Regions from separate parts of the Homo sapiens genome. Here all the other regions are linked to region 1. Evidence: fine-mapped expression QTL. A gene starts in region 1. Each other region holds a variant in brackets. All regions are shown on one strand. Distances are from middle to middle.

Region 1 (5,028 bases):
AAGGCCAGGTGGCCCACGCTGTTCCTGGTGCCCAAACGCAGCCTCCCAAGGCATCAGTGAGGATGGGCTGGCCAGGAGCCAATCCCTAACAGAGAAGTTCCCCCTACACATCCTTTCTCTGAGATAAGCAATTAATTTAATCCAAGACTTAATGAAAGCCAGGAGAAGGGATGGGGCAGATTCATACACTGGCTTTCAGGCTGTCCCGTGCATCTTCACCTCTCTCCAGGGACCACGAGGGTTTTTTTTTTTTTTTTTTTTTTGACAGGGTTTTGCTCTTATTGCCCAAGCTGGAGTGCAATGGCGCAATCTCAGCTCACTGCAACCTCTGCCTCCCAGGTGCAAGCGATTCTCCTGTCTCAGCCTCCTGAGTAGCTGGGATTACAGGTATGCACCACCACGCCTGGCTAATTTTGTATTTTTAGTAGAGACGGGGTTTTTATGTTGGTCAGGCTAGTCTCGAACTCCCGACCTCTGGTGATCCGCCCGCCTCGGCCTCCCAAAGTGCTGGGATTACAGGCGTGAGCCACCGCGCCCGAGGCCTTTTGATCCATCTGCTATAAATCCCCTTCCCACAGATGTCCCGATTGGGCACCAACACCTCTGAGGAGGGTAAGTTACTGCCAAGCCCGACCGCAGTCGCATCCCGTTTGAAAGGGTGGGCTCCGCACTGCCAGCTTCACACCCACGGGCCTTCTGCAAATATCAACAAACGGCTCCATTTGTGGAGCACTCTCCGATCCCCCATCCACCCCCCTACACTTCCCCATTCACAGCTCGATCTGATTCCCCATCTCTCCTGATTTTACTTGTTGAATGCTTACAAAGGATCCTTGCCTTTCCACAAAGACACTGGCTAGCCAGGCGGTGATAACCTCACTCACTACAGAGCCCCCTCGCAATCGCTGAACTCACAGCCGAAGCGGGAAAATATGGCTCCACGTCCTGCACCGTGAATCCTTTACCATCCACAGGTACAATTTAAAAGGCAGCTGCGGCTGCAAAGCAGGCAACCTACCCTAAGCAAATCCATTCTCTCTCTCTCTGTGTGTGTGTGTGTGACAAACCCAGCTTATTTAAAAGATCAGGACATAGGCAAGTTCACCAGCAAAAGCAACGTCGTGGGTCTACACCACACGGTCCTAACCTGCGCATCCAGGAATGTTAACCTGCGCTCGGGCGGCCCCGTGGCCAGGCCCGGGACTCCCGGAGGCGTCAGGCTGCAGGTGGCTGCCAAGAGGAGCCAGCCCCGTCTCCGGGAAAGGCCGCGAAGTTGCGGCCGCCTCCTTACCTGGAGACTAGCCGGCTCAGGACCGCCCGGGAAGGGGGATCCCGGGAGCTTGAATCTCGGCTGGAATCCAGCGGCGGGAGTGCGGGGGCCGTGCGGGAGAGGGCTGGAAGGGCGGGGGCGAGGTGGAGGCGGGCTCCGCGGGAGAGTGCGGGGCTGCGGGGGGCGAGGGCTTGGAGACAGAGCCGGGGGTTCGCAGCGGGCGTGAGACGGCGCCAGCTCTGGGAGAAGGGGGCTATGGGGCGGGCGCCGGGGCTGGGACACCGGGCGCACGGGGGGAGTGGCAGGAAAGAGGGCGCAAGTCCTAGGCTCAGGGGCGAGCGCGGGGATAAAGGAGGAGGCTTAGTCGCGGGATTCGGACCCGACGCTTCGAAGCGCCCCCAGCCTTCCCGCCCCTCTCCCACTGGCGAGTTAGGGGGACCCCCTCAGTCTCCCAACCTCGGACCCTGGACGCCCACCCGCCTAGAACCTCTGCGCTGCTCGGCCCCAACGGCAACCGCCCCGGCCCAGGCCCGCGCCGCACTCACCGCCCATGGTCCCAGGCCGGCCCCAGCTCCGTCGCTGCGCGCCCGGCTCGGCGCTCGCCGCCAGCTCCTCCCGGCGCGAGGGGAGGCGAGGGCGGCGCGCACCCGCCACCGGGGAGCTCGCGGGGCCCGGCAGCGCCCCCTGCCGACCCCGCCGCGCCCCGTCTCAGTTCGGCCGGCCCTGCACCAGGAGCCCTGGAGCTCCGCCCCGGAGGCGGTGTTGCGGTGCGGCTGGGCGGGGGCGACCGCGCGGGGTTGCTGAGAGGACACTGCCTCTGGGAGGCCCAGCACAGCCCGGAGAGACTGGTCAGTCTGCAGAGCCCTCGGCGTGCAAAGCCACGGGCACGGACAAGCCGAGCGCGCAGGGACCACGACCACAGACGCGCAGGGCTCTCGCGTGCCTCACAACTCCTGACCTGCGATCAGGGACTGCGCGGAGGCGCGCCAAGGCCCAGGAACACAGCCCTGGCCGGCCCGGGCCCTAGTGTGGGTGCTTTGGGGCCATGTGCCTGCCCTGGCGCCGCTGATGCTATCGCCGGGTGGGCGCGCGCGTCTGGGGTGCGCCTGCTGCCACGTAGACCCAAACTGTCACCCCCCACCCCCCACCCCTTTCGGCCTATCCCACACTCCTCTTCCGGCTCAGAACACATCCGGCCTTGTGTTGCTCTAGTCCTCGCTGCTGCTCCGTCTCCAACGGTCTGCAGAGACCCGGGGAGGTCGTGGCCCCGCGCAGTCGCCCTTCCCACCTGCTCCCGGCCCGCGGCTTCCTTGGAGCCGCTGCTGAAGATCCTCAGAGCACTTGAGGGCTGCCTGTAACGCCCCGTTAGACATCTGATAGGCGAACGGTTGTATTTGGTTTGATCAGTATTTGTGGGTCATTTATTGCAAATGTTAGGTTCCAGCTGGTGGAGATTTCCACCAGATTTCTCTGTGGGAGATGAAACGACCAACAGCGATTATCAGAGAGGTCTTTGCTGTCAGCTCGAGGTCTACAGCAACCCTGTGTGTCCTAGCACAACTAGCCTCAGGCAAAATAGATACGGATTCGAATTTGCTACTATATACCTTTGAGGTGCACCTTTGGGAGGATCTCATCCCTTGACTTCTGCTTTCTCTCCTTGATTGATGGCTCTCAAATCCACACACTTGGCTCAGATATGTTAGCCATATTTCCCCCTACCCTCCGGTTTTTTTCTTAGAACTTTCCTCCTCAAGTTACCACGTCTGGCACTAAATTTTACCTCTTCCAAGCTCCCAACTCCATTTATCCCCGTGGTCTCGCCATTCTCTCAGCCACCTGTCATGCCTTCTTCATCAGGTGCCTTAATGGCTCGTCAGTACCGGACTTTGCTGCCTGTCCGCCTCTGGTATTCCCCCGATGCAGCGCTATCCCGGGCCTTTTTTCTGCCCTGAATACTGACAGCCTCTCCCAATCCATGAGCACAAAATCTTTTCACTGTCCCCTTTGGCATCACCCCCAACTCTCCCACCTGGCCCCCACAGAAGCCCACCGCAGCCCGCCCAACAATGTCTCCTCTGCCCCTTCTGATTGTCCTCTCACGGATTGCAGGCTCTACTGCTTAGCTCACACTGTCACCCTCTTCTCTACATGGGTTAGTCAAGGTGCTTTCTGCTGTAAAAGACAACCCAATTCACACTAACTTAAATCACAAAGGGTTGATCCGCTGTGTACATGAAGAGCCTGTCTGCTTCAGGCCTGGCTTTAGTCCCAGGGTCTCAGGGACTCCCCGTCTCAGTTTTGCTGTCTTCCACATGAACTACGCTTTCATGCGCACATGAGACCCTGGCAGATCCAGGCTCACAGCCTCACAGCTCTAGTTCTAGCAGAAAATCAGCTTCTCTGCCAGCCATTGCAACTAGCCTTGGACCTGGCTTTGTTTGCAGGATTGGGCCACATGTCCATGCTGTGCTCTCAGCCTCTGTGACTCCATGGCAGGTGGGTTCACTCGTGGACACACTATCACCCTCAGCAGGGAGCATGTAGGCACTCTTGGATCCCTTCTCTGTCACAAGGGGACTAAAGGTAACTCAGGGCACCATCTCTAGCCATTTCTCTGCAAAATTTGCCACACCAGCGCTTTGCTTGACAGCGCAGGGCATACTGTGGGGGCAGAGTCTCAGCCTGGAGATAGGACACAGGCCCTTTCTGCTTTCAGCTTCCTCCTTAACCTATCTGAGATCTGTGTCTTTGTACCACCCCCTTCCCTAGGTCCACACTTGGTATAGGGATAGCCTCAGGCCCTCATGGAATCAGGCATCATACACTCCCTAGACTCACATCCTGTTTCTTTACCTCACCTTCCCGATTCCCTGAGGATGTCTATGCTACCTTCCATTCTAGAGGAGGCATCTCCTCCCCCTGTGGACTCTGGGTTCTGAGTGGTACCCACCGAGCCTTAATGGAGAAAGGGGCTATAGGGAAGAAAAAAGAAAAGCTTCCTACAGGGAAAATAGATATGAGGAAGCATCTCAAGACCATTACTCCCACTAAATCTCTTTCCTCCGTGGTTGCTGAAGAGGCAGGATGGCAGCCTGACACAGCTGGGGACCATCTGGCCAGCACCTGGGGAGACTGTGCCAGAGACTGCAGCTGACAGAGGAAAGCAGAGTGGTGAGATAGGCAGGTTTCTTTCTTTCTTTCTTTTTTGTTTACCTTCACAACAGAATGGATGTCATAGGCAGGTTTCTGCTGTGCCTGAATCCCACATACCACTGGATTTTTCAAGTACGTGTTCCAGTAAATACCCCATTTTCCCCCAAGCAAATTAGAATTGGCTTTCTCTGTCACTTGCAACCAAGAGAGTCTTGACTAGTATAAGCCTCTAGCATAGGACCTCACACATTAGTTCCTGTAAAATAGCAACTATCATCACCGTTATTCATATGATAAATGAGCAAGCCATCCTCTTTGGTAACTGTAAACTGTAGAAATGAAAAGTGCATGCAGTATGCTCAATAACTTTTGTCTCCCCTCTTATTCCCAGCCTGCTCCTTTGTCCTTTCCAAATTCACATCTTGACCTCCAAGGAAACCCTCAACATTCATTAAAAGCAGAGCCCACCCATCTTATAAAAATAGTCCCAGACTCACCCAAGTCACGAATATTCCGCTAGGCAGCATTTGCTCCCATGTTACACAAGTGATCCCTTCCTAGACTATAAGCAACTGGGAGCAGGTGTCCAGCTTCAATTCACT
Region 2 (5,028 bases), 38 kb before region 1:
CAGGGATGAGGACCTGACTCTAGGCAGCTGTGCTAATAAAGGGACCTTTCCAGGAAAGACAGGCTGTCCCATGTGGAAGACACTTCTGCAGTGGGAGTCAGATGGCTTCCAAACCCCTCCCTCCTGCCATCCCCATGCTTGTGTGATTTGGCTGTCAGCCTTCTTCTGATTACACAGATACCTGGCAGATTACAGTTGGGTATCAGGGACCCAGAGTTTCCCGGGAAATGTGAGCATGATGAGGCTAAAGTGTTGGCTCAGCTCTGTCTCCATTGCTCTGGGATCAGCTGCCACACAAGTCACCCCACTGACTACACCAGCAAAGAACCTCTTGGGGCCAAGGTCCAGCTCCACTATCTGTTTACCTTCCTAGCTCCAGGGTCTGCCTTGCCCTTTTTGGGACTTCAACACTGGGCTAGTCACTTCCTTAGGGGACTACAGTCACTTTTTCCTTGGAACTCCACTGACATCTGTCCTCAGTTGCCCCTGCTACCATGGTTCTGAATGCAGGGAGGTAGCCTGGGGCTGGGGGCTGCAAATGAGCTATAGTATTACAAAGATGTGAATTCATGTCCTGGCTCTGTTACCTCCTAGCTGTGTGACCTGGGGCAAGTATCCCTGCCTCTCTGTGCCTCATTTCCTTCATCTGTCAAATGAAGGTGATGATACCTACAGATCAGGGTGGTAATGATGATGTTGAGATACCACCTGTGAATGGATTCTGGTAAGGAATCAAGAAATACTATTTTCAATGTTTAAAAAGTGAGCAGGATATGGTGGCACATGCCTAGAGTTCCAGCTACTCAGGGGACTGAGGCAGGAGGATCGCTTGAGCTCAGGAGTTCGGGGCTGCAGTGAGCCCTGATCACACTACTGCATTCCAGCCTGGGTGACAGAGTGAGACTCCATCTTATAAATGAATGAATGAATGAATGCTATTTTCTACATCCATCCCCTGGATGTGATTATTCCTGTTTCCTGCAGGCTCTTAAAAGGCGCTCCCTTCAACTTGGGATCTGGAAGGGATATCAAACCCCTGCGTCCACCCCTTCACAAAAGCACAACCAGCCAATCTCCCTTCTCCTCTTGGCCACTCCAATTTTAGCAGCTTTTCTGGCTCCCTTAAATACATTCAGCTTATCTGAGATAGCGTCTCCTCATAAGCTAAAACACCCCCAGTCCTGCCACCTAATTTCTCCAATTTCTCCCCGCAAATAAACCAAAAGGTTCTTGAATTCTCTCTCCTTCACTGGTCTGCCAAGGAATAATGACGCGCTCTGTCAGTTCCCACAATTCCCTTAGTGCTCCTCAACCCACTAAATTATCTTAAATGCCCGCCCTGTCTCTAACCTGTACTGAATTTTAAAAGTGCACTGTAACTGTCAAATGAAAACCAGAACCACAACGAAGAGTCCACAGTTGTTATCTGCCTCTCATCGTCTGCTTTTAAAGGCTGGAGTGGGAATCATGTTATACAGGTGAAATGGGAAAAGTCAAGCCCACATTTGTAGACTTTGAGACACTTGGTTTTACATAAATGAGATTGATCAAACAGTTGAATCTGCTCTTGCCATTTTGATCTATCCACTTTGAGCTGCAATACACCAACCTTTCTTGTTTTCCTCATTCTTAATGTTGCTTCATGGTGAACCACATTAGGTAAGAATTTATTAAGTGCTTCTGATACGCCTGGTAGCATTCAGGGAGCCGGAGAACTCCAGCAGAGTTCAGGGCTGGGCACATCCTATCAGCCTGGAGCTCTGCTCCCTGGGCTATTTGCACGCTCTATCTCCTCCCTCCTTGACCCTTTCCTCTGACATTTGCCTCTGGGACCTAAGTCCACCCATTGCTTGGGCATGGGGGCTCCCCCTGTGGCCTGGGCTTGAGCCCCAGTTGCAGCCTCTCAGAGGAGTCAGGAAACCCCACACTCTTCTGGGAGCTGCTGGTAACTGGCCTTACCCTAACAGGGCCATTGGATTAGATGATGCCAACACCAGACTCCAAATCACCACACACTCAAGACAGAAACTAGAAATAAGAGATTTCCAGGACAGGCCTCCAAAAAGAACCATGAAAAGAACCTGTCTCCTTAACCTTTTTGGGTCATGAAGGTTATGACCCTCATCTTTGAGAA[C/T]CTGATGAAAACGATTGATCCTCATCTCTGAAAGACGATGCGAACACAGTCTTGTGAATTGGACTTCTGGGGGTTTACAAGACCCCTGAAACCCCATGGGACAATGCAGAAGTCCACAGGTTCAGGCTAAGAACCCAAAGTACCTGGAAACAGGTTTTCAATTTCAACACTCAAGAAGAGATGAACAGATTTTCTTTTTTCAAAATAAAAAGGGGTCATAAAAAACATGAGTTCATCATAAAATAGTCATTCAACACTAAAGTATAAAAAGAAAAGGAAAATCACCCATAAATCCTACCACCCAGAGAACCCCATAAGGAATATTTTAGTATTTGAGTATATATGTGCCCTGCCAGAGGCTAAACATGTGCTTCTGTCCCTGCTCCGGTGGGAATGGTGACGGATGGTCACTCAGGCCCAAGGACATTGTTCTCTCTCCCCAAGAGGAGCAAATAAGTTTCCTGTGTCTCAAAGGTCTGCAACCCACTGAGGCCACCAAACCAGCAACCTGTCCTTGAGGGTGGGTGGGTTGTCTGCCTTCTGTGTAAAGGCTCAAAAGACATAGCCAGACAGGCGAGGGGCTTTGGGGAGGCCACCTCAAGGAAAGAGAGAATGTGGCCCAGGGTGGGGCCTGCACTCTCAGGCATGTGGACATCCCACAAGAGCTGCCCCACCCTCTGGTAGATACCTAGGGGTGGTGTGGACGGGCAGACCCCTGGCCAGTGGAGTCCAGCCCCTCGGATGACACAGGGAAAAGAGAAAGGCAAAGAGAGGCAAGATGTGATGCTGAAGCTCCAGCCAGATAAATCCTAGAGAGGGGCCATGCATCCCAGCCACCTCCCCATTCTTTCCCACCTGAGCCCACCCCTGAGCTACGGCTCTGAGGCACAGGGTAACATCTGTAGTGTGTGTGACAGCCGCACTGGCAGGAGGGCAGGATGGTAGTGAGGGCAGGATGGTGAGGCAGTCCCAGAGCTCCCTCCCAGGTGCCCGCCCTACTTCACCCTCGTGTACAGGATTCAGATTCTGCCCTTGTCTCCTCTTTTAGATCAGCCTCTTCCTTCTCTCTTGTGAGGTGGGGCTGCTGGTACATAACAGGGCTCTGCCTCTGATCAGCACTCACTTCATTTCAAGGTGGGCTTCCTCCTTTTAATGTCATCAGCATGGGGCCAAAGCCCTGTTGCCAAGACAACAGGGAGTGAGCGGGGTCTGCACTGCGTGGCTTGGCTCAGCAGGCGCACACTCTGCCTGCCAGACTCCAGCTGGCCTCGCGCTCTCCCTGCAGTGGGTACAGCCACATAAATCCTGTGGCTTTCTATTCTGTTCATCTCTTCAGTGGATCTTAGAGATCTCCAGGCACTTTCCTGAATTCACTGAATACTTCTACTAATGCTTTCTATTTTTACTAACTAGCCGTGATAGTATTTGCTCTTGCTGACTCAAGACACACACACACACACACACACACACACACACACACTCTCTCTCTCTCTCTCTCTCTCTCTCTCTCTCTCTCTCCCCCACCCACCCGCATATAAAGGTACCATTTTAAAATTTAATATATTATGCACAACCTTCCAAGTCAATAGAGACAGGTCTATGTGATCATGAGGTAATGGGGTATTTACTGTTGTACACGTTGGTTGCCTTCTCCTTTGTTTCCTATTACAAATGATGCTGCAGTAAACATCTTTAAACAGATATCTCTATCCCCTCATCTAATTATTGATGAGAACTTCTTTAAGATAAGGAACTAAGAAGAAAAAAGGGAAGAAGAGAGAAAGGGAAGGTGGGAGAGAGGGAGAGAGGGAGAGAGACAGAGAGGGACAGAGGGAGGGAGGGAGACAGAGAGGGAGGGAGGGAGGTCATTATCTAGCTCCACCCTGAAAGAAAACTAGGAATGACCCACAGACATAAATGTGTCCATTCTCAGCTTGCAGAAGAACCTGCTACATGACACTCTCACCTTCCCACTCCAATGCATCTACAACATGAGCTTAAGAAATTGTGACAACAGCTTATTTGTCAGATTTAATTTTGTCACTCATCTATGGTGTTTTTTTTTTTTTCACCTGCAGATATTTAACTCTATGTGGCAACTGGACATAAAGCATTCTGAGGAAAAGCAAATTAAAACTCCCAGAAATCAAACAGAAAGTAAAATCTTTAAGAAAAGGACCAAAATTAACAAAAAATACAGAATTTAAAACTTTGGTCACAATGAAGAGATGGCGATATGACAGAACTCTTAGGTTAACAATGTAAACCTTCACTTTCAATTTCTCATACTTTTTGTCTCCAGCTGAACAAAATAAAAGCTCAGGAGGAAGCGCATTGGGGCTTTTAGAATAGAGGACGCAGTACGTTAGACCCTGTGCATTCTAAGGGCTTGCATCCCCAAATCTTTTCCATGAAGCATACTGAGATCTTCACGCATCCCCACATTCAAACATACCACTCTGTACTTTTCTCCACTGAACGTACACAGGACAAAGAACAGAGGACGACCACCTCCCCTGGCTGTGTGGCAGGACGTGGCTCCCTCAGCAGCTGAGCAGCTCACTTCCTGCTACTTTCATCAAGACGTGTGCCTCGGCAGAATCACTATCACCATATACTACAGATCTCAGGGGTCCCTGCAAAGAGTCGAAACCACAAATGCTAATGGCCATCTACAAGAGTGAGCAGGACTGAGGACACAAGGGTCTGAACCACCGAGGAAGGTGTCACAGCACCCTGGCACCTGTCAGGGCTCCTTGCTTGCCTACTCAGAGGCAGTTCTATGTTAATGTACACACTGTTCTATCAAGCATTGTTATTTTCTTTCTTAGCGGATATCAGACTGAAAGCAGCACAGAAAAAGGGAGGGGATATAGGGGATCAGGGCCACAGGA
Region 3 (5,028 bases), 54 kb before region 1:
CTTTTTACTTGTCTTTCCTAAATTATTTTCATGAACACGTATTGTTTTTGTAAGAAGGAGAAAGGTTCTATTTAGTTTTGAGAACTCTGATGTTTATTTAGAGGCCCTGGTGACCGAGCTCCTTGCAGAGCCAGTCCTTGCTTACCCCCTCTGAGCTGCACAGCACCCCGCCCAGGAGAACTGCTCGGAAGGTATGCAAGCAGAAGAGCGGGTGGGGGAACCCCTGAGCGCATGGGGGTCACACATACCTGTCTGTGTGAGCTCTCCCATCTCACACAATGGGTGATTTGGGTAAAGAGGCAAGGAGTTCAAGGGGCTTTCGAAAGAGGCTCCGGATCCTTTTGACATGTGACTAATGAAAGCTTCCAGTTTTGGGTGATACGGTTTCCTAGAGAGATGATAGAGAGAGTTAGAGGTCAGAGTGCTCCACAAGAATCCAAACAGTTTCCAGCTTCAGCGAGCCAAATCCCACGTGTATCGCAGCCTTTTGCACCCACAGTAACAGGTACCGGCTCAATCACTTTTCAGTTCCAATTTCATTATTTCTCGACCACTGACACTGACACATGAAATCCCCTCTGTGAGGTTGGCCAGAGTTCCTAACCTCTGCTGAACTCAGTACTGTGGGATTCAGCTTCGCCGTCTATCTTCCGGCTCCCCAACCTGTGCTGCCTTCCGGGCTCGCTCTCCGGGAGGCCGCCAACACCCACCCAGCAGTCACGCCTAGGCTGGGCATCGTCCCACTCTCTCCATTCCCTGCCCCTGCACATGCTGTCTGCTCCCCATGTCTTGCAGATTCTTTCTCCTGGTGCTTCTCCATCCCCTTCTCCTTCATCCTCACAGCTACTACCTAGGTTCTGGCCTCAGGCAGCTTTTGTCTGGCTGGCAATGGGCTCTTTATTGGTCTTCTTGCTGATTAAGCATGCCCCTCTAATAATCTTGCCTTCTCCACCACCAGAAGGATTGATTTAAAAGGTAACTCTGACCAGTCACTGCCCTTCCCTATCACCACCTTCTGGAAGGGGCCACACACAGCCTGTCCCTCTATTCTGGCCTCGCCCTGGTACTCACTGGCCCTCTCTACCCTAATACTGTGCTCTGGCCACGCCAAGCCAAAGGCCTTCTTTCCTCCAACACACAACGCACCTCATTCTTCAACACTTCCACCACTTCCCACGAGCTATCCCTTCCTCCTAGAAAATCTACCCTATCCTTTATCAAGGTCACCCATAATCCTTAATTTTTCTGACCTCTGAAAAATCCCCCTTTAGGAAAATTGTTAACTGAATAAGATAACCAGGATCTCTATACCTCTTTACAATCCACTCCACGTTTTGGACATACAACCTCTCATTTAATATAGGGTAATAATAAATGTCAAAAAAAGTTTATATATGAGATCTGAGAGTATCTATATTTCTGCCACAAAGTATATGTGGTAAATCTTTCTAGTCACTAATATACAATTACCCTGAATAATGAAATGACCTATGAATATAAACATCTTTTCTTTGAATAATGAAGTAGCCTATGAATGTATATACATTTTCCAGCTGAAGAGAAGTGGACAGATAGAGTAGTTCATGCCTAAACTCTATAAGAATCAGCATGAAAAGAAGCAAAGATAAACTGTTCTAATGGCAAACCCCTGCTGTCTGAAGGCCCAGTTAACTTTGAAAGTGCTTTAAAAATGGCTGCCAAAATGGGTTTATTATCTATCAACAACATAAAGCTAAAAAAAAAATCCATCTTTTAAAAATACGTTTTTAAATTAGAGAATACTAATCCAGACATGTAATATAGTCTAATAAATCACCCTGGATAGCTAAAGGGAGTTATGCCTTTCCACAAAAACAGGGTACGTTATTTTGCCTGAGGCTAAAGCACATAAATGTTTGCAAACTGGGAAATAAAATGTCCAGACTGACAATGAGGCTGCCAAGAGTAATCCACATAAACAAAGGCTATCCATCAACAGGAGTCAAATGTTCTGCACCAGGCCATTATTTCAGGTTGGAGCTTTTTTTGAGGATCTGAGAAAGCTTTGCTGCCAATTTTAGAAATGGAATTTCATGACTGGAAGTGTTTGCTGAGGTGACCCAGGTTTTCAGGGCATCTGACTGCTTAATGATATCTAACTGCATTCATTCCAATGTTTTTTATTTTTGTTTTTTTTTGTTGTTGTTGTTGTGTTGTTTGTTTTTGGCATGCAAAGATGAAGATTTGTGGAAGAAAAACTTCATTTAAAGAATAGCTAACAGGCCGGGCATGGTGGCTCATGCCTGTAATCCCAGCATTTTGGGAGGCCGAGGTGGGAGGACTGCTTGGGGCCAGGAGTTTGAGACTGGCCAACATAGTGAGACCATGTCTCTACAAAAAATACAAAAACTAGCCAGGCATGGTGGCGCAGGCCTATAGTCTCAGCCACTCAGGAGGCTAAAGCAGGAGGATCACATGA[G/A]TCCAGGAGGTCGAGGCTGCAGTGAGCTGTGATTGTACTACTGTACTCTAGCCTGGGTGACAAAGAGATACCCTGTCTCAAAAAAAAAAAAAAAAAAAAGAAAAAGAAAAAGAAAAAAAACATTTGACAACAAATGGCTGTATCTTTTTAGTGGAAAGCAGACCAGGTAACTCGAGTCCTGGACCTGGATCTGACTACCCAGGCCTTGTCTGCCTGGTCCACTGCTCCATCCCTGGAGCCCAGAGGGTGCTTAGCACATAGCAGATGCTCTAAAAATATATGTGAGTGAATTCAACTGTGAAGTGTCCCATCCTTGGATGTTTCATGAAAATAGCAAGCCTTCCATAATCTGTAGAAATGAATACGATAAGTTCCCATACGGTTTGTTAAAATATTCAGATTTTGATGAAAATATAGTCGGCCCTCCATCTCTTCAGATTCTGCATTGGAAGATTCAACTGTGGATCCAAAAATACTTGGAAAAAACCCAATAAGAAATAACAATACAACAATAAAAATAATACAAATAACAACTATTTACACAGCATTTACATTGTGTTTGGCGTTATAAGTAATCTAGAGATGATGTAAAGTACATGGGAGAATGTGCGCAGGTTCTGTGTAAATACAACACCATTTTACATAAGGGACTTGAGCATCTCAGATTCTGGTATCCAAGGAGGATCCTGGAACCAATCCTCTATGGATGACTGTATTAAAACTAAAGGCTAGTGTGGATGAGACTAGTGTACTAGTCGTACACTAAAATCTATTCTCTTCTTAAGAACTTGGTTAGATCCTATTTCTGAGGTCCTGAAATGAGGTAAAGCCGCATTCGCCAACAGAACGGAAAGATGTATGCCACTTCTGGGTTCAGGCTTTCTGATCATGTGTATGCCCGGTTCACATTATCTTCCTTCCTTCCAGCCATTATTTAGGCATGGCAGCAACCAGGGTTCAACCATGTAGCCATCCCCAGGGGATGGTAGAAACAACAACCTGGAAGAAACCTGGGGCCCTGAATGACCAGGTGGAGCTGACTAGCACAATCTGGAACACACATTTCAGACCTTCACATGAGGAAGAGCTAAACTTCCTTGTTATTTAAGGTAATGCATTCATGAGTCCCTGTGCTACAAAATAAACTTACAAAATAGGTGTACCCTGACTAATGCAGACATAATTATATCCATGAAAATAAATTTTTCTTTAGGAAAAACTCATATTATTGTGGGCTCATTGAAAATCTGCTTTCATAATGAAAACTGAAATAATCAAAAGTGTTACTATCTTAAGCCTTCAAGTCATTCACTTTGGAGTCCTTATCTTCACTTTTATATGCATTATTCACATCTATTTATGCCACAAAGTTTGAGGCTGAACCCCAAGGCTAATCCACACACCCATGAGAACATTTATTGTTTATTTAAAATCTCAGCAATGACTGAGTTCTGCACAGAATGTTAAGGCAAGCAGAAGAGGCAGACGACCAGTGACACTGTTACCAGAAAACACAATCCAAAAGAGCATACATAGCTGGAAACTGGAATCACATTAGATTTTTAAAGTTCATGCCAATTAAAGAATTTATCATCTTACATATTAATAACATGAGATTATGAAAAGATAAGCCCAGTGTACTTTTCTTTGTTTTTAGCTTTCTGGACCTTTTGGTCTTACTTGATGTAATGCATTGCCCTGCTTTCCTTAGCTCTCATAACATTGCTCTCCTGACTTTTCCCCATTTGCAACATCCCTGGCCCCTTTTGAAATCCTTTTTCTCTCTGAGTACCACATGCTGGTGCTTCCCAGGACTCTGGTTTTGGCCCATCCCTCACTCCTCAGGTTCTGTCTGTAATATAAGCCCACAGCTTCAAATGCCATCAACATGCTGAAGATTCTCAACTAAACCTCTTTTTCCCAGCAAGCCAGTGCCCCTGAGCTGCAAAATTATACAGACTAGGCCAGGCAGGGTGGCTCACACCTGTAATCCCAGCACTTTGGGAGGCTGAGGTGGGCTGATCATGAGGTCAAGAGATCAAGACCATCCTGGCCAACATGGTGAAACCCCATCTCTACTAAAAAATAAAAAAAAAAAAAAATACAAAAATTAGCTGGGCATGGTGGCGCGTGCCTGTAGTCCCAGCTACTCGGGAGGCTGAGGCAGGAGAATCGCTTGAACCTGGGAGGCAGAGGTTGCAACGAGCCAAGTTCATGCCATTGCACTCCAGCCTAGTGACAGAGCGAGACTCTGTCTCAAAAAAAAAAAATTATACAGCCTATTACTGACTAGAAACTGTCTCTTGAATGTTTCATGATAGCTCAAATGTAGCACCAATGCCTGTACTAACTTCCCCCCATACCTCCCTTCTGTGTTCTCTAATTCCAGGGAGGGGTACCACCACCAGCCAGACACCCAGTCAGAAACCTGGGCCCCATCGGGCCTGCCTTTCATACCCCTGTCCAACCTGCCACCAAGTCCTATTGATCCCACCTTGTAACCTTCTCTAAGACCCACTCACTCTCTCCATCTCTGCTGCCACTTCTGAGTTTCAGCTGCCATCATTTAT
Region 4 (5,028 bases), 44 kb before region 1:
GACATATCCCATTTATCATCATCTGCTTTATGCTTTGTGGGCCTTCAGAGTCGCTCATCTAACCCATGAGAGCACTTTACAGAAGAAAGCCAAGGACCAAGGCATGTGTGGTGGGTGAAAGCCTGTCTCACGCTTACTCCTTGACTTCAGGCCAGCTTCCCTGCCACTGTCTTCGGCGTGGCATGTGTGGGTCTTGCAATCTGTGTGCTTGTCCATCTACTACCCTCATTCCATTAGTGAGCTGACCCTTCACCACCACGTGTGGTCAGGCTGGACTGTCAATCACAGTGTCCCCACCCCCTGGCAGGGGTGGACATGTGACCAGAGTCAATAAGGGTAGTAATGGGGCAACTGGACTCCCTTTCCTCGAGACAGGTGATATACAGACTCTAGAAGAGGTGCTCTTTTTCTTTCGGATGCTAATCTGTAAGAATGGAAATGTGGGGCTGCCCAGCCATCTATCCCTCATGAACAGCTTCTGTCTCAGTGGTCCCTAATCTCTCCGTGCCTAGGGAATGTCTTTGTAGCATCATAGATCCTCTAGAACTCCCAACACAGTATAGTCATACTTTCAGCATCCGCCCTTTGAGGGAAACACATGAAAATAAGTGTGCTCACAGATCTTTTTAACTTCTAAAAGATTTATTAATCACCATAATATCTACACATGCGCACGAACAATAGCTAAAACAGGGACCAACCACCAGCCTAAATCAATGTAAATTCCCTAATTACTTCTACAAATTCTTCTACATAAATATTTAAAACTTCCCTTTGGCAAACAGATGCCATAAACAAAGATAAAAGGCAACACACTGAGAGAAAAATATTTGCAACTAACCTAACAGACAAATGATTAATATCCAAAGTCCATAAGAGACCCTACACCTGAAAAATCATTAAAGGATATGAACAGGCTAATCGCAGAAAAATAAATACCAATGGCCAATAAACACATGAAGAGATGCTTAAGTTTGTTCATAATTAGATACAGATAAAACAACAGTGTGATACTGTTTTTCATAATTGTTTATTCATAATTAAAGAAATATAAATCAAACAGTGGACTATATTAATAATTTTTCCTCATCAAACTGGAAAATCATGTTTTAATGATAACACTCAATATTGGGAAGGGTGTGAGAAACCTGACGCTTCCAAACATCATGGGGAGGGTGGAAACCGGCACCTCTCGGGAGTGTTTGGCAGTAGCCATCAAAATGGTATATGTGCACTACCCCCGATCTCGTTATTCTACGTCTTGGAATCCATTCTGTATCTATAAAGATAGCGATGCCCACGCACAAAAATGTGTGGCCAAAGAGATTCCCTGCAGTGCTGTTTGTAATAACAAAAAAGGGAAATAACCTAAATATCCATCTCTAGCAGAACAGAACGTTATGTCCCTACTGTGGAATGTTCTATCCCAGTTAAAAAGAAGGGAAAAGAATCAAAGATAAATTAAGTGAAGTGAATACACCAAGTCACTGTATACTGATATAATCCTCTTTGTGTAAAGAAAAAAAACAAACCATAAATGCATAAATATACAGGGATTTGTTTATTACGTAAATGCATAGAAAAAATGTCTAGAAGGTTATCCATCATAACACAGCAGTGGTTTTCCTCTGGGAAAGGATGGAATGGGGTGTGAAAAAGTATTTTTACTTGTTTGTATATTCGCACACACATATACGTACAGTCATGAGTTGCGTAACAATGGGGAGGCACTGAGAGATGGCCCTTAGGCAATTTTGTCATAGTGTAAACATCATAGAGTGCACTTACACAAACCTAGATGGTAGAGCTTTCTACACACCTAGGCTATTTGGTCAGCCTGCCGCTCCTAGGCTACAAACCTGAACTGCATGTTACCGCACTGAATGTTGTAAGCAGTTGTAACACAATGGTAAGTACTTGTGTATCTAAACATATCTCGACTTAGAAAGAATACAGTAAAAATATGGTATTATAATATGGCACCACTGTCATATATGTGTTCTGTCGTTGATGGAAGTCATTATGTGGTACATGACTGCATATGTATTTATAGTAAGCACATATTAATGTATTCTATATGTATAGAAATATATATTTCTGTATTTCTATGCTGTCTAGGTAAGCATTTTTTTTTTTTTT[A/TA]CAGTGAACGTATTTCCCTTCATTACTTGTGTTACCAAAACAACAATCACAGAGATACAGAACTGGTGATTCACCCACCCAACATTAGCCCTTTGGTTGCTCCTAGGGCCACTTTCTTTCCAGTAGTTGGAAGGTGCTAGGATGGCTAACACAGCCCAGGTGTTCAGAGGGAATTCACTACAGGGGGATTAGCACAAGAGCACGGAAATATAGAAAAGTGCTAAGGCAGTCTCTTAGTGACCTGGCCCTTCTGGCTGGCTCAGTCCTTGATTCTGCTCTTTTGTGAAATCTACCAAGTCCTGGCCCCTTGGCCATGCCTGTGGGCACACTCCCTTGGAGTCTGGGCCAGGGACAGAAGCAGCTAAGGAGACAGGATAATATGAGTGACACAGAAATGGAGGGGCACAGGTGAGGACAGTGGGTGTCCTAGAGTGCCCACAGTTTGCTAGTTCATCTATAAGCACCCGGGGTGAGGCCTGTTGTGGCTGCCATTTGGGAACCATGGTGGTTGGGTGCAAATGACCCACCCATGACCCAAGGAAGCAGTGGTTTGAAAACCACAGATAAAGATCAGAATGAGACCTTCTCTCCAGAAAGATTTTATCTGCTGCTTCCTCTGGTATCTGGGCCTGTCAACTGTGTCTACTAGTTCAGAGTGTGAGATCACCCTGTACTATTTGTACCTCCCTGAGTCACCAGGACATAGCATCAGTTCACAAGGGGCCTTCCCAATACCAGGCATTCAAAACAGGTCCTGACACATAGAAGCTGTGAGGAGAAGTCTCCCCAGCTCCATCTTGACCCCAATCCCAACTTGGTTCTCACTGTTCTGAGCTGCTCTGAGCCATCCCACCCCACAGGATGTTTCTCGCCTATGCTCCACCGTTTGCTGGCAACTCTACTCTCACCCTCTGCTCCCGAAATCTGACCAACACTGTAACTGATCCTAGGGTCACCTCCTCCAGGAAGCCCGCCCTGAATCCCCAGTTCCCACATCCTCTTCTATGAGCCTACCCAGTTCCTGCTGCCGTCATGGCTCACAGCATAGTATATGCAAGCAGGGGTGTCCCAGTTTGTCACCCTGCCATCCCAAACATCCAGAGGGCTGGGAGTGTGCGTCTTTCACATTTATATCCCCCGCTGACTGACAGAGGATAGGTCTTCCAAAAATACCTGCTGAACTGGGGCAGACGCTGTGCTCCATGCTTTTGATGAAATATCTCATTGACTCCTCATGTGGAGCACTGAGGGTTGCCGAACCAGTCTGGGGTGAGGGGCATCCAAACAGGCTTCCCAGAGGAGACACCTAGCTGGGCCTGAAAAACTGATGAAGCTGGCTGTGTGGAGGGGAAGAGGAGAGGAGCAGAGGGGAGGCCGTGAAACACAGCCAAACATGGCAGATGGGGGTCAGCAAGCTGGCTCAGGATACGCCTTGGGTCCCGTAAGGCCTGGTCAGGTTGGCCTCACCAGGGTCGATGTGCAGGCCGGGCTCCAGGAGGAAGGCTGGGAAGGGGCCTGGAGGAGCAGACCCCGGGCTGCAGGCCGCCTCTGCCCTGGTGCTGTGCTACTCACCACATCAGCTCTTGAGGCTTGCCCCGATCACCTAGATAAAGGGAGCTGAGGGACAGACCCAGGGGCTGGGGGCAGACACTGCTCCAGGACACTGCTCCTCCCAGCAGGCTTTGCCCAGGCCCCCCGTGCCTCTAGCTGTCCTGTGGAACAATTAGAAACTCTGCTGACCTCAGGCAGATGACAGCAGCTCAGATGTCACAGGGCAAGAGAAAGAGGCTGTGGGGGCATCAGAAAGAATAGTGGGCAGATAAATAGATGGAAGGATAACGAGTTTCATTATGTAGGTGGGAAAACCCATGAATCTAAATGAGTGTCCTGGGGCCACTGTGCCACCAGGACCAACACGAATAACAGGATACGAGATATCTTTTACTGATGATTAACTCTGTACCAACGGGCATGCAATTTCTCTGTGGTGTGATTACCAAGTAGGAGGGCAAATTTCCGTAAGCTACCTTTGGAAATAAGCCTCTCTTTTATGGCGGTGTTCTCTGCTCATCTCATCTACGATCACTTTCATCCTGTCCACACATCTATAACCCTCATGTGTAAAGATGCCGACAAGGTCTCAATTTCAAAGAAATGGCAGAGAACATGACCTCTAAAGCATCTCCTTGGGACCCTCCCTCTCAAAAGCAACCAACAAATTTCTTAGAATCATGAGTAAAACAACCAGATGCTATCCCACGCAGGCTCCCTCCCCACCACCCTTCCCCACCCCATCTCCCGAATGCACAGTGGATGACTCTGTATGTATTACTAGTAAACATTCCCATAGCTATAGCTAGGATGCAAGCCAAACTGATCCTCTCTCTGCTTTTCCCAGCTTTGGATCTCAACCTAGGAAGAGTAACCATCAGCCAGACAGTAGACCTTAGGCAGAGGCAGGTCAAGGGAGTTACCTAAGGTCCTGAAGCCTGTAAGCCCGGACCTGCTCACCCACTAAGCTCGGTATTTATGCATTTGTCCATCTGGCCATCCAACATGTATGGAGCACATGCTGGGGATTCTTCAGAGAATAAAATGGACAAGGTCTCTGCCCTCACGGGGTTTACAATCCAGTTGCGGGGGACAGTCAGACATTAAATAAGAAAAGGTGGGGAGAAAGCACATGGACCATAAGGAGAAAATAGCCTTCTCAGGCACGGGGCCCCCTGCACTCACTGGTTGCTGGTTGGGGGGTGCAGGTATGGAAACGATGCAGTGAAGACATGGATATAAAGGAAATATTGGGAAGTTACCAGATGTGATGGTTAATACTGGGTGTCCACTTGATTGGGTTGAAGAACACAAAGTATTGCTCCTTGGTGTGTCTAT

What was found. PIP is the estimated chance that this variant, and not a neighbour inherited with it, causes the effect. A credible set is the group of variants that fine-mapping cannot tell apart.
Region 2: its variant is the best candidate, but not a certain one, in a credible set for the expression of PXYLP1 in tibial artery (GTEx, PIP 0.89).
Region 3: its variant is the best candidate, but not a certain one, in a credible set for the expression of PXYLP1 in thyroid (GTEx, PIP 0.73).
Region 4: its variant is the best candidate, but not a certain one, in a credible set for the expression of PXYLP1 in monocytes (CEDAR, PIP 0.90).

What each region holds. Positions count from the first base shown.
Region 1 is chr3:141,228,699-141,233,726 of GRCh38, reverse strand. PXYLP1 (2-phosphoxylose phosphatase 1) reads right to left here and starts at 1,902. Exons shown (of 6, transcript NM_001037172.3): 1 at 1,816-1,902. RefSeq lists a silencer at 1,784-2,163.
Region 2 is chr3:141,266,793-141,271,820 of GRCh38, reverse strand. The region is part of intron 2 of PXYLP1 (2-phosphoxylose phosphatase 1); the gene reads right to left. Among named protein-coding and RNA genes, the nearest start is that of PXYLP1, 37 kb to the right of the region's middle. The variant C/T (reference allele first, on the strand shown) is at 2,135.
Region 3 is chr3:141,282,674-141,287,701 of GRCh38, reverse strand. It overlaps PXYLP1 (2-phosphoxylose phosphatase 1), which reads right to left. Exons shown (of 6, transcript NM_001037172.3): 5 at 249-388. Among named protein-coding and RNA genes, the nearest start is that of PXYLP1, 53 kb to the right of the region's middle. The variant G/A (reference allele first, on the strand shown) is at 2,459.
Region 4 is chr3:141,272,908-141,277,935 of GRCh38, reverse strand. All of the region lies in intron 2 of PXYLP1 (2-phosphoxylose phosphatase 1), which reads right to left. Among named protein-coding and RNA genes, the nearest start is that of PXYLP1, 44 kb to the right of the region's middle. RefSeq lists an enhancer at 3,941-4,110. The variant A/TA (reference allele first, on the strand shown) is at 2,140.